Linked DNA regions of Homo sapiens. The protein of the gene in region 1 purifies or fractionates together with the protein of each later gene. This does not show direct contact. Each region holds a gene or a part of one and is shown on either strand. Other genes may lie near its edges.

The links.
Region 2: the proteins of FKBP15 (region 1) and CHERP fractionate together in Homo sapiens (co-fractionation; one large-scale study listed by BioGRID). This does not show direct contact.
Region 3: the proteins of FKBP15 (region 1) and MIER1 fractionate together in Homo sapiens (co-fractionation; one large-scale study listed by BioGRID). This does not show direct contact.

The regions. Positions count from the first base shown.
Region 1 is NC_000009.12:113,183,247-113,186,897, forward strand, and holds part of FKBP15 (FK506-binding protein 15), read right to left. Parts: intron 3,118-3,651; coding exon 3,003-3,117; intron 1,559-3,002; coding exon 1,449-1,558; intron 1,154-1,448; coding exon 1,046-1,153; intron 600-1,045; coding exon 505-599; intron 1-504. UniProt on the Homo sapiens protein: May be involved in the cytoskeletal organization of neuronal growth cones. Seems to be inactive as a PPIase. Involved in the transport of early endosomes at the level of transition between microfilament-based and microtubule-based movement.
Region 2 is NC_000019.10:16,532,380-16,536,030, reverse strand, and holds part of CHERP (calcium homeostasis endoplasmic reticulum protein), read left to right. Parts: intron 1-394; coding exon 395-579; intron 580-2,882; coding exon 2,883-3,020; intron 3,021-3,281; coding exon 3,282-3,433; intron 3,434-3,651. UniProt on the Homo sapiens protein: Involved in calcium homeostasis, growth and proliferation.
Region 3 is NC_000001.11:66,931,456-66,935,106, forward strand, and holds part of MIER1 (mesoderm induction early response protein 1), read left to right. Parts: intron 1-3,651. UniProt on the Homo sapiens protein: Transcriptional repressor regulating the expression of a number of genes including SP1 target genes. Probably functions through recruitment of HDAC1 a histone deacetylase involved in chromatin silencing.

The DNA.
Region 1 (3,651 bases):
TTTTTTTAAGTGAAATGCTGTGTTGTGATGTGTTCCACTCATCCTCCCCACCCACCCCTCCAAATCTTCAGAAGTATCTACAAAAAGTACAAAATCCTTAGGTCTTATATGGGAATCAGTGAAGTTTTGGCTGAGTTCTGATGGATAAAATAGAGTTAGCCCACACAGAAGAGAGAAGAGTTGACACCAGAGTTCTGTAAGTAATAATACCAGTTTTAAAGATAAAGAAACTAGGGCCAGCAGGAATAAATAACATGCCCAGAGCCACAGAATGAATGAGGGTCAGAGCAGGAATCAAACACAGGTCTGCCCTACATCACAGCCTACTAAGCTCCTTCTACTGCAATGCCTCTCAGAAAACAGGCAATAATTCACATGACAGGCAGGAAACAGAAATGGCAGAAATACATACGTACTGCCCTAAACAAATACGTGTACTTAAGCTGGGCATATACATAATAAACCCTTTTGTCCATCCTAGCCAGGCCCCGTACCTGTCATTACCTCTGATTTCGTTCAATTAGTTCACTAATCTTGTCATTCTGTTCTTCTATCCGATTGCTCTTTTCAAGGATCTCTTGCTTCAATCTTTCATTTTCCTAATTTCAAAATATATGATGTACAATTTAAGTGTCTTGGGAGAAAAGTGCCAGATAGAAGAGAATCAACTTGAACTGACAGGTGACATTGTTAACATGTTTTGAGACAAAACACTAGAACTTATGTCCACATGTATGTTAAAACAACACATCAGATTACACCTGATGGATACAAATCACTAGGTCCAATGGATTGAGTGAATAAATGGCTAAAAAAAGAAGTGAAATTCTGAAGTATGGTCAAAAAAGCAATGTTTCCTTCAGAATATATAGTGATAAGTCACTTGGACAGAATTAAGCCATAATGGATTTTCTAGAATTGTCTAACCCAGTGTAGCGTTTATCACAGGCTATTTCTGGGGTGGAGGTGTTAAAGAGTAGTACCTCTGAGAAGAGAGGATGGGTAAGACCTTCAGCCTGAGTGGTATGTTCTTAATCACCCTCACCTGAATGATTCGCTGGATGTTGCTCATAATCATGCTTGTTTCCATTGTAACTGACATGCTAGGAATAAGCATGGAATTGCCAGCACTATGTTTCTGTAACTCTTCAACCTACAAAAGGGATACCAGAAAGACCTTGTGAGAAATTATAAAATGAAGAAATACAATTTACCCAAGATTTGACCCTGTTGTTAAGGGGGTTAATGAGTTCCTGGGACAATCTCTAACTGTTAAGTTAGAGTTTTCTCCTACTAACTGGATCCCAACATAATTATAACTATCCTTGTAGGGAAATAACCTCTCACTACTACCAATGCAGGAAATCAAAGAAGAGTTTACCTACAGTTCTGGCTGCTCCCTGTTTACATCCCCACTTTCAACATCACCCCAACTCTGACTCAGTCACCTTAGTCATGAGATGATCCATTTTATCAGCCACTTTGCTGACTGCCATTCGAATTTCAGTGTTATGTTGCCGGGCTTCAGTCATGAGAAATGAAGCCATATCACCTGATCCTAAACAGATACAAGCCAAAAAGAAACTTATGAAACTGGAGCAGAGGAAACTGTATGAAGAAAAGCTAGTAGCTCTTCCAGTAAAGAAAGAAATTAATACTTCCATACACTAGGAAATGCTATAGGTGACTTCACCCTGTCAGGAGAAGATATATGGGAGAGAGTAGAGGCAAAAGGGCTTCAAAGTAAACAATAACTAAGCCGTGTTCCTGCAAAATGCATCAAGGGCTACATCTGGTCCAAGGGCACAAATATGCCCACTTTGCACTGCCACAGCACCGGCAGCTCAGATTACTTTCCCGTTCATCCAACTGTATGCCAAGCATTGTACCAGGTACCAGGAATACAGCAGTAAACAAAACACGGCTTCTGCCCTTGGTGAGCTCTCAGTCTGGCTGGGAGACTGACATGTAAACAAATCATTACAAGAGAGTGTATTAAGTGCAAAACAATGGACCATATACTAGGTATAAAAGTAGCACAGAGAAAAGCACGATTAACTCTTTGGTGACACGCGTACACAGTTGTGTTTGTGGGAAGAGAGGAAAGAGGGACAGAGAATAGTCAGGGAAGGCTTCACAGAGGGAGATGACAGTTTTGATGGATGAAAAAGCGTATCCCAGATGGAGAAGGGCAGAGCTTCCAGATAAAGGCTGCATTCAGGAAATCCTGACCAGTCCAGAACCACAAATTATGTTGCAGGACATACTGGCTTCTTCCTACCACTGTCCTAATACCAAAGCTGATTACTAAACAGAAGACTAATAGCAGAACAAGGCAGGATTCCATCATAGCAGTTTACACTTTATCTTGGTTTGATTTTTTTACATTAGATACTCACATTTGTACATGCATACAAAATATCTGAAAAGTTACCCAAGTAACTGTTAACAACAGTTTCCCAAGGTCAGGGGGTTTATGGAGGGGAAGGACAGTAACTTCACTTTACACCCTTTTGTACTGCTTGACTTTTTTATAAAAGTCTCTTATTTTCATAATTTAAAAATGTTAACAGAGTAGCTTTCATTAGAGATACTAAACACCTATAGTATTCAACTTTCTCCCAATTTCCTCCAATGTTTTGCTCTTTTACTATTTTCTCTAAACTCTAGCTACTCTAACAGAGGAATTAAAAGGGCCAGGGGAGAAAATCCAAGGAAAAAAACACAGAATGTGGACACAAGGAAACATTGGGGGATGACGGAAATGTTCTAAAATAGGATTGTAGTGATGAATGCACAACTCTGCAAATTTACTAAAACACTTTTGAATTGCACATTTAAAATGAATGAATGTGTGGAATACATATTATATCTCAACAAAGCTGTTAAAAAAGAGAAGAAACAATGAGTAGAGAGCTGTTGGTGTGAAAATGAAGGAGGAGCAAGAAGAGGGAAAGCACAGCAAGAGCGGAAGATGAGAAACTGAGGGAATTACTCCCTACCTTGGAAATGGGGAGGCTGAGAGAGCGGTGCTGGGTACAAAGGCCGAACGGGCTGCAGCTGGGAGGTGACGGCAGATGCCTGGGGATAAGCGTAGGCTTGCATACCTGCATAGGGCTGAGAAACTGACGAGTTACCACTGGTTGATAAAACATTCATGTCTTTCTTTTTTGTTCACATTTTTCTTTGGTGGAATAAAGTGGATGAGCTGGGAGGAGACTCAAACTTACTGAAGCTAGAGATGGGTGAGATCTGGGTTTGGCAGTTGGTAAGGACTGCAGCAGGAGAGTTATCTATGTATCCCAGGGGAAACCAGTCACTAAAATCCTACCCAGAAACTGAAGAAAGTGTATCTTAGGTCACTACCCAGTCATCTGGTGAGATAATTAAGCAGGGATTCATTCCCCATTATCAGGCCTATTGTCTAAGAAGTTTTTAGATTAATAAACTCTGCTTAGCTTCCATTGAGTTTAAAGAAGAAGTGCTCACTGAGATTCCAAACCAAATCTGCCAATTTCCAAGGATGCCTCTCCCCTGCTAGATTCTGAAGCTAATCCACGAGACCAAGAGCTCTCATGTTCCTTTGAGTCTCGGTCACCTCAACTGTAAGAGGAAGATAATAATATCACTTCATAGGGCTGTTCTGTGGAC
Region 2 (3,651 bases), on another chromosome or scaffold:
CGAGGAGGTCGGAGGATGAGAGGTACTGAGGCCTGGGTTCTGCATCAGGTGGGGCCTAGGTGGGTGAGGAGGTGGGCAGGCAAGCTTAGCTTGCACCGGAAGGACACTGCGCAAGGACTGGATGGTGCTGGCGAGAGAGCGGCCAGGGGACTTCCTAGGTTCTCCGAGGAGGGGACGGCCCGAAGATGGAATGCTGAGGCTGGGATCCTGTGAGAGGGAGGGCAGGACCCGAGACTAGGAGGAGCTGGTTTGCGTGGGCATGAGGCTATGAACAGGCCCTCGTGGATGGTGAGTCCCTGGGGAGGGGGAGGCCCCTGTGGCTGAGAGGTGGCCAAGGGGACACCTAGACCCCCATCTGCATTCTCATGGGGCACCCCTCCTCCTCTCCCTCCAGTCATCTGCAAGCAGCAGACCCCGGAGCTGGAGCCAGCCGCCACCATGCCACCCCTGCCACAGCCCCCGCTGGCCCCCGCCGCGCCCATCCCGCCGGCCCAGGGCGCGCCATCCATGGACGAGCTCATCCAGCAGAGCCAGTGGAACCTCCAGCAGCAGGAGCAGCACTTGCTGGCGCTCAGACAGGTATGGGCCCGCCGCCTCCTCGGCCAGACACCAGCAGCTCCCCTGTGCCTCTGTTTTTGCGTCTGCTCATCAGAATGAATAACAGGTGTCAGTGAGGACAGGGCCCCCCCTGCCACCCAGGGCTCGGTGCATGTCAGCCACTGTCACCCCCAGCCCTGATGCCAGACACAGAGGCTGCTTCTCATCTCAGTGAAGCCACTGGACGTGCGTGCACCCATCACCCTGGGGTGGACCCCCCTGAGTGGGACTGTGGGGCACGTATGCACCTTGAAGCTCCCTAATGGCTGTGGCCAGGCAGCCTCTGGTGCCTACCATTGGCCCCACCACACAGTAGCTAGGTCACCTGGAGCTGTTGGTTGGGGAAGGACCCTTTTTTTTTTTTAAGTCTTGTTCTGTCGCCCAGGCTGGAGTGCAGAGGCGTGATCTCAGCTCACTGCAGCCCCTACCTCCCGAGTTCAAACGATTCTCCTGCCTCAGCCTCTGGAGTAGCTGAGATTACAGGCATGCACCACCACACCCGGCTAATTTTTCTATTTGTAGTAGAGATGGAGTTTCACCAGGTTGGCCAGGCTGGTCTCAAATTCCTGACCTCAGGTGATCCACCTGGCCAGAAGGACCCTTTTGTCCTTCCTGGTCCAACAGTTTGATAACTTTCGCCAAATAGAATACAGGTGCATTGGCTGGGTGTGGTGGCTCACACCTGTAATCCCAGCACTTTGGGAGGCTGAGATGGGCAGATCATGAGGTCAGGAGTTCGAGGCTAGCCTGGTCAACATGATGAAACCCTGTCTCTATGAAAAATACAAAAATTAGCTGGGCGTGGTGGTGCACGCCTGTAATCCCAGCTACTTGGGAGGCTGAGGCAGGAGAATTGCTTCAACCTGGGAGGAAAAGGTTGCATGAGCTGAGATTGCACCACTGCACTCCAGCCTGGGTGACTGAGCAAGACTCAGTCTCAGAAAAAATAAATAAATAAAATACTACAAGTGCATTGCCAGAAAAATGAGAGGAATAGAATACCAAACCTCCAAAACACCAACCCCACGCTCAGTACTAGGTTCAGGGCATAAAATCACACTGTCATATTGCTCTCAGAAAATTCCAGCTGGGCACAGTGGCTCAGCCTATAATCCCAGCACTCTGGGAGGCCAAGGCAGGCGGATCACAGGGTCAGGAGTTTGAGACCAGCATGGCCAATATGGTGAAACCCTGTCTCTAGTAAAAAATACAAAAATTAGCTGGGTGCAGTGACAGGTGTCTGTAGTCCCAGCTACGCGGGAGACTGAGGCAGAATTGCTTGAACCCGGGAAGTGGCGGTTGCAGTGAGCTGAGATTATGCCATTGCACTTCAGCCTGGGCGACAGAGCGAGATTCCATCTCAAAAAAAAAAAAAAGAAAAGAAAAGAAAGTTCCAGAATGCTCACCCTCAGCTTCTGTTCATCATGGAGTGGGAGGCCTGCCTTGACCAGCCGTAACTGACCGCTGGTCCGCATGGCAGCTCTGTTTTTACCAGTCGCACTTTAACCGGTGTTTCCTCTTGAGGAATGAGATTGCCCCCTTCTTGCTTCACTAGAGGCCATGGGTGTATCCTCTTCTTCTATTGCCTGTCGTTCACACCATGCCTCATTTGTCTTTTTTTTTCTTTTCTTTTCTTTTTGTTGTTGTTGTTGTTGTTGTTTTGTTGTTGTTAGAGACAAGGTCTTGCTGTGTCACTCAGGCTGGAGTGCAGTGGTACAGTCACAGCTCACTGTTTAACTTTGAACTCCTGGGTTCCAGCAATCCTTCCGCCTCAGCCTCCCAAGTAGTTGGGAACACAGGCACACACTACCATGCTCAACTAATTTGTATTTTATTTTTTGTAGAGATGAGGTTTCGCTACGTTGCCCAGGTGGTCTGGAGCTCCTGGGCTCAAGCGATCCTCCCGCCTCAGCCTCCCAAAGTGCTGGGATTACAGGCATGAGCCACCGCGCCCCGCCTTTGTTTTTTGTTGAGTTGGTTTGCAGAGGTTGTTTGTTCCTCTGGGCTGCAGTGTTTTCCTTGGTTACCTGGAGGGCAGGTGTTGTCTCCTGGTATGTCCTGTCAGTGCCCTGCCCACTCCAGGAGGGACTGTCACAGATTCACGGCAGGCATGAGAGACAGAATCTCCTCCTGCTGGGGACAAGCAAGGGAGCTGATGGCCAGAGCAGCCCAGAGTCCGGGCATCGCCACCATGTCCCCACCCCGCCCCTGCTGAGCCAGGCCGGAGGGCTCAGGCTGCGGGTCCCTCCTCATGTGTTCTCGACCCCACCGACCCCCGCCCGCAGGAGCAAGTGACAGCGGCCGTGGCCCACGCGGTGGAGCAGCAGATGCAGAAGCTTCTGGAGGAGACCCAGCTAGACATGAACGAGTTTGACAACCTCCTGCAGCCCATCATCGACACGTGCACCAAGGACGCCATCTCGGTGAGGGGCCAGCACTTCCCAGAGCCCAGCTTTCCCTTGGTCCCTCCCTGAGGCAGGGCCTGTCGTAGCCAATCTGGGCTAAGGGCTGTTACAATGGGTGCCCTTCCCTCCCGCCTGGAGCTCCTGAGGCTGTGGGACCCTGTGCCCCCCACGCTCATGGTGTGTCCTTCCCTGAGCTGATGGTGACGCGCTCTCAGGGATGCAGTGGGTGCCTGGGGGAGCCGCGGCCCTGCTCACTCGTCATTGGCTCGGTTGTTGCAGGCCGGGAAGAACTGGATGTTCAGCAATGCCAAGTCCCCGCCGCACTGTGAGCTGATGGCCGGCCACCTCCGGAACCGCATCACGGCTGATGGGGCACACTTCGAGCTGCGGCTGCACCTCATCTACCTGATCAATGACGTGCTGCACCACTGGTGAGCGCCGCCACCCCGTGCCCAGAGCGCCACTTCCTCGCGCTCCTCCTCAACCCTCCTGGGTGGCCGCTTGCTCCGGTCGGTAGCTTGGCTTGGCCTGTCCCGAGACTAGGGGGCACTTGTCCGGGGACCCCGGGTGGGGGGTCTCTGTGAGCCACCAGGCTTCTGTCTCCAGGACTGCGAGGTCTAGGTGTCCTGTGCACCTTCGCTGCATGCCC
Region 3 (3,651 bases), on another chromosome or scaffold:
TTGATAAGGCATTTCTCTTGTTTGAATTGCCATTTTCATGGTTTCACAGGCACCCCAAAACAGATTTAGGAAGGAGGGTGAGATTTTGCTGTAGCAGACAGGACTGTTTGCTGCGAGTATTCTTTTTAAAACATTCAATATCTCTAATTTACAACTAAATTTAGATCTTAGATTTATTTTCATTTCTTTTGCTCTTGGTGGTTAAAGAATTGTATTTCCAGGCACATGAATTGGAGAACGTAGTACTTTCTGTTTCCCCAAAATGTGACTGCGTTTGTTCCAGTAGACTGAGAATCGGTACCTGGATTTTAGTCCTGGTGAGGTTCTTATTCTTAAGTGTTTGTTTCCTTCATGTTTAAGGAGTTGTGTGTAGCTGGATTTATACATTTTGTCAGTTAGTGTCTTCAGTGGACCCCTTTCAGTGAATATCGGGTAAGCAGCAATGTGCTACATAGGTAATGTGGTTTCTTCTTTCATGGTGTTGCTCAGGATGGTTTGAGCTTTGAGGTGTGTAGTCATATACTAAGGCAAGATATTACTGAAGGAAAATAGCTTATACAGAGAAATTTAAGTTAAAAAACTTAAATTTAAAATTTCTGTGTTTTTAAAAAATAAATTTTATTGCCGAGGGAACTAAAAAATCTAATATGTAAAAGAAATTATGTTAACTTTTTTGTTTTAAAAATTAAAGATGGTTGCGTTATTGTAAGATAAAGGAAAAAAATATTTTGATTCACTAATCATTTCCTAATATTTTCTAATGTATGTTTTAGTTTTCTTAAATATTTTATCAGTTGGAGAATGGAATGTTTTGTGGGAACGCATGGATTGTTCAACTGCAAGAAGGAAAGAACTGGAATTTTGTTTTTATTTGGTTTTTAGTGTTTATTTAATGACCTGGTATCTTTAAACAATTTATCTTCTATATTCTTCAGTTACTTGTAGATAGTTTCATGTATAGTGAATTGGGGAAGAGTTAGAGGAACTTTCGTGATCTGTGTCCTACAAAAAAATCTAAGACAGGTGAAGAAGTGAAAAGTACAATTGATTTATAGTTTTCCTGGCCTCAATACTTGAATAATTATGACGATTTTTGAGACCAGTGGTTTTAAACAATTAGACAAAGGAGAAATGCTTGGTTGGCTTTTACTTTGAGCTCTCAGTAGATTCATTCTTTATGAAGCCAATATAAAAGCATGTGATTAAATAATCCAGATGCTGAATTATTGTGCTTTTGATCAAATAAATCTGAGGATTTAAGGATAGCTTGTGAAGTAACAGTAAGTGCAAAGCAACAGTATATATCTATTTGTTAAATCTGAGGGGGAAAACAGGTTATTGAAGAAGTATGTCTCCAGAGAAAAATGTAGGTATTATGCTTCTGGGCTTTTAAAAAAAAAAATTGATGCTTCCTACAAGAGCATGACCCTGACCATGTTTTTCCAGAAAAATATTTAATTCTTGAATAGAAAGTGCTTTAGATGAGAATAGGATATACTAATTTTTTATATTTGATCTGATTATCTTAGTCCATAATAGGAAGTATATATTGGTTCTTCAGTTGTGATAACATTAAAGCCGTATTTAATGTACTTAGAATAAATAGCATATGCTCCCTTGCTTAATACTTTTTGGCAATATTTCTCATTGCTTATTATCCCTTAAAATTATTTACCAACCTTCTAAAAGGACGCTCTCCTAGTCACACTTGAAGGAAATTACAGGATAGTTGCAGTTTTACTAACTGCAAAAATAAGAGGAAAATGAGAGAAAAAATGAGAGGAAGAAATAGTTAATCCTTTGGGTTTTATAAGGAATGTACTAGGGACCTTTGGGAACGAACAATTTGTCTTGTATTTTAGCGTTTGTAAACACGTAAGGGACTTTCTTCTCAAGGAAAAAAATCCATGGACAATTCAAGACCTGTCTTTTCACCTAGGCCACATTTCTGTGATATAAAGAGAAAATTAATGGATTTGCTTCTTTCTATTTAAGTATTTTAGTACTTTCAAAGAGGGTATATAATCTGTTTATTCACTTTCACACCTATCCATTTCTCTTTAAAATGGACTCCTTGCTTAGTATTTTTTGAGTGTATTTGGATTTTTTTAACGAAGGATTATGTTAAATGTTACTTATGAAAACATTAATTTCTACTCTAAGCAAAATGTGTTTCACTGCAGTGAATTTAAGCTTCAAATAATTCTCGACACTAATAATGAATTTTTTTTCATGTTTATACTTCAGAGCTATTAAGATTTTAAAAGTAGTCAAGATCACCAGTGCGTGAGAGTCCTAAAAATCTTAATTCATTGGCAGTTAAGAGTTAGGGTACTTTAATAGGTGGGAAAGGTTTGGTGGGAGAAACAAGTGAATTACTTTAAGATAATTCTGGTAAGTGAGACTAACCAGTTTTCTAAATAATTCAGAAATAAAACACTGCCATTGAAGCTTAAGCATGTCTTTATGAAAAGTAATCAGCTATCTAGAAATGCCTGCCTGGCTTGATGTTCATTCAAAATTCATTGCAGTGATTAAATTGTTCAAGTACCAGTCATTGCTTGGGGCTTGTTCTGTTTGTCTTATTCTGTGGCTTAGAACAATAACTTATTATGTAGGTATGAAATTCATGAAGTAGCACCCCAAAAAATTGTTTTTGCAAATTGAGATTTTTTTAACAGTCCTAGATTTAAAAAAATAAATTTAAACATATCCCATGCATTTAGCTGCATACTCCTTAGTAGTGTTAGGTTTCTAGAGCAATTTATAATAAAAGTAAAGTTAGGTCTTGAAGAAATCTAAATCTTTTGATCATAGAGAAAATGAAAGTGAGCAGAGAGTTTACGTAGTTTGTCCTAGGTCGTGCAATTCATCTATGGCACAGTTTAGACTGGAACCCAGCCTTCTGTATTCCTAGATTCCTAGTGCTTATTTTCTTTTTCTTTCTTTCTTTTTTTTTTTTTTTTGAGACAGGGTCTCTCTCTGTTGCCCAGGCTGGAGTGCAGTGGCGCAAATCATAGCTCACTACAACCTCAAACTCCTGGGCTCAGGTGATCAATCCTTCCCTCAGAGCCTCTCAAGTAGCTGGGACTATAGGCATGTGCCATCATGCCCGGCTTTTTTTTTTTTTTGTGGAGACAGGGTCTCGATATGTTGATCAGACTGGTCTCGAGCTTCTGGCCTTAAGTGATCCTCCTGTCTTGTGCTGGGATTATAGGCGTGTGCCACTGTTCCCAGTCCTTATTTTCTATGATATCATTTTACTTCTGAATTATTAATACTGTAGTAAATTGCTAATTTTAATTTCAGTACATTCTTAACCTTTTTATACCCCAGAATTCCTGAGAGTAATAACAAAGTTAAGTAACTTAATTTTATTGGAGGAGAGGGATGGTGAGCCAGCCCTTGGCACGGTAACCATCTTTCACCCTAAAGTAGGACCCCTCTTTCCAGGCTTCTATCCCCATCTCCATTGCTGTGAGAATCTCTGACTTAGAGTCTACATAACTAAGTAGATGACGGCAATACTTAAAAGAAATGGTGGTAGAATTGTTTTGAGGGGAAAAATTTGTTCAGACGGTAATACTCATTGCAAATAAGCTTTTGATTGCCTGGAATAAAAAAATCTAGTAATTACTTCATGTTTTTACT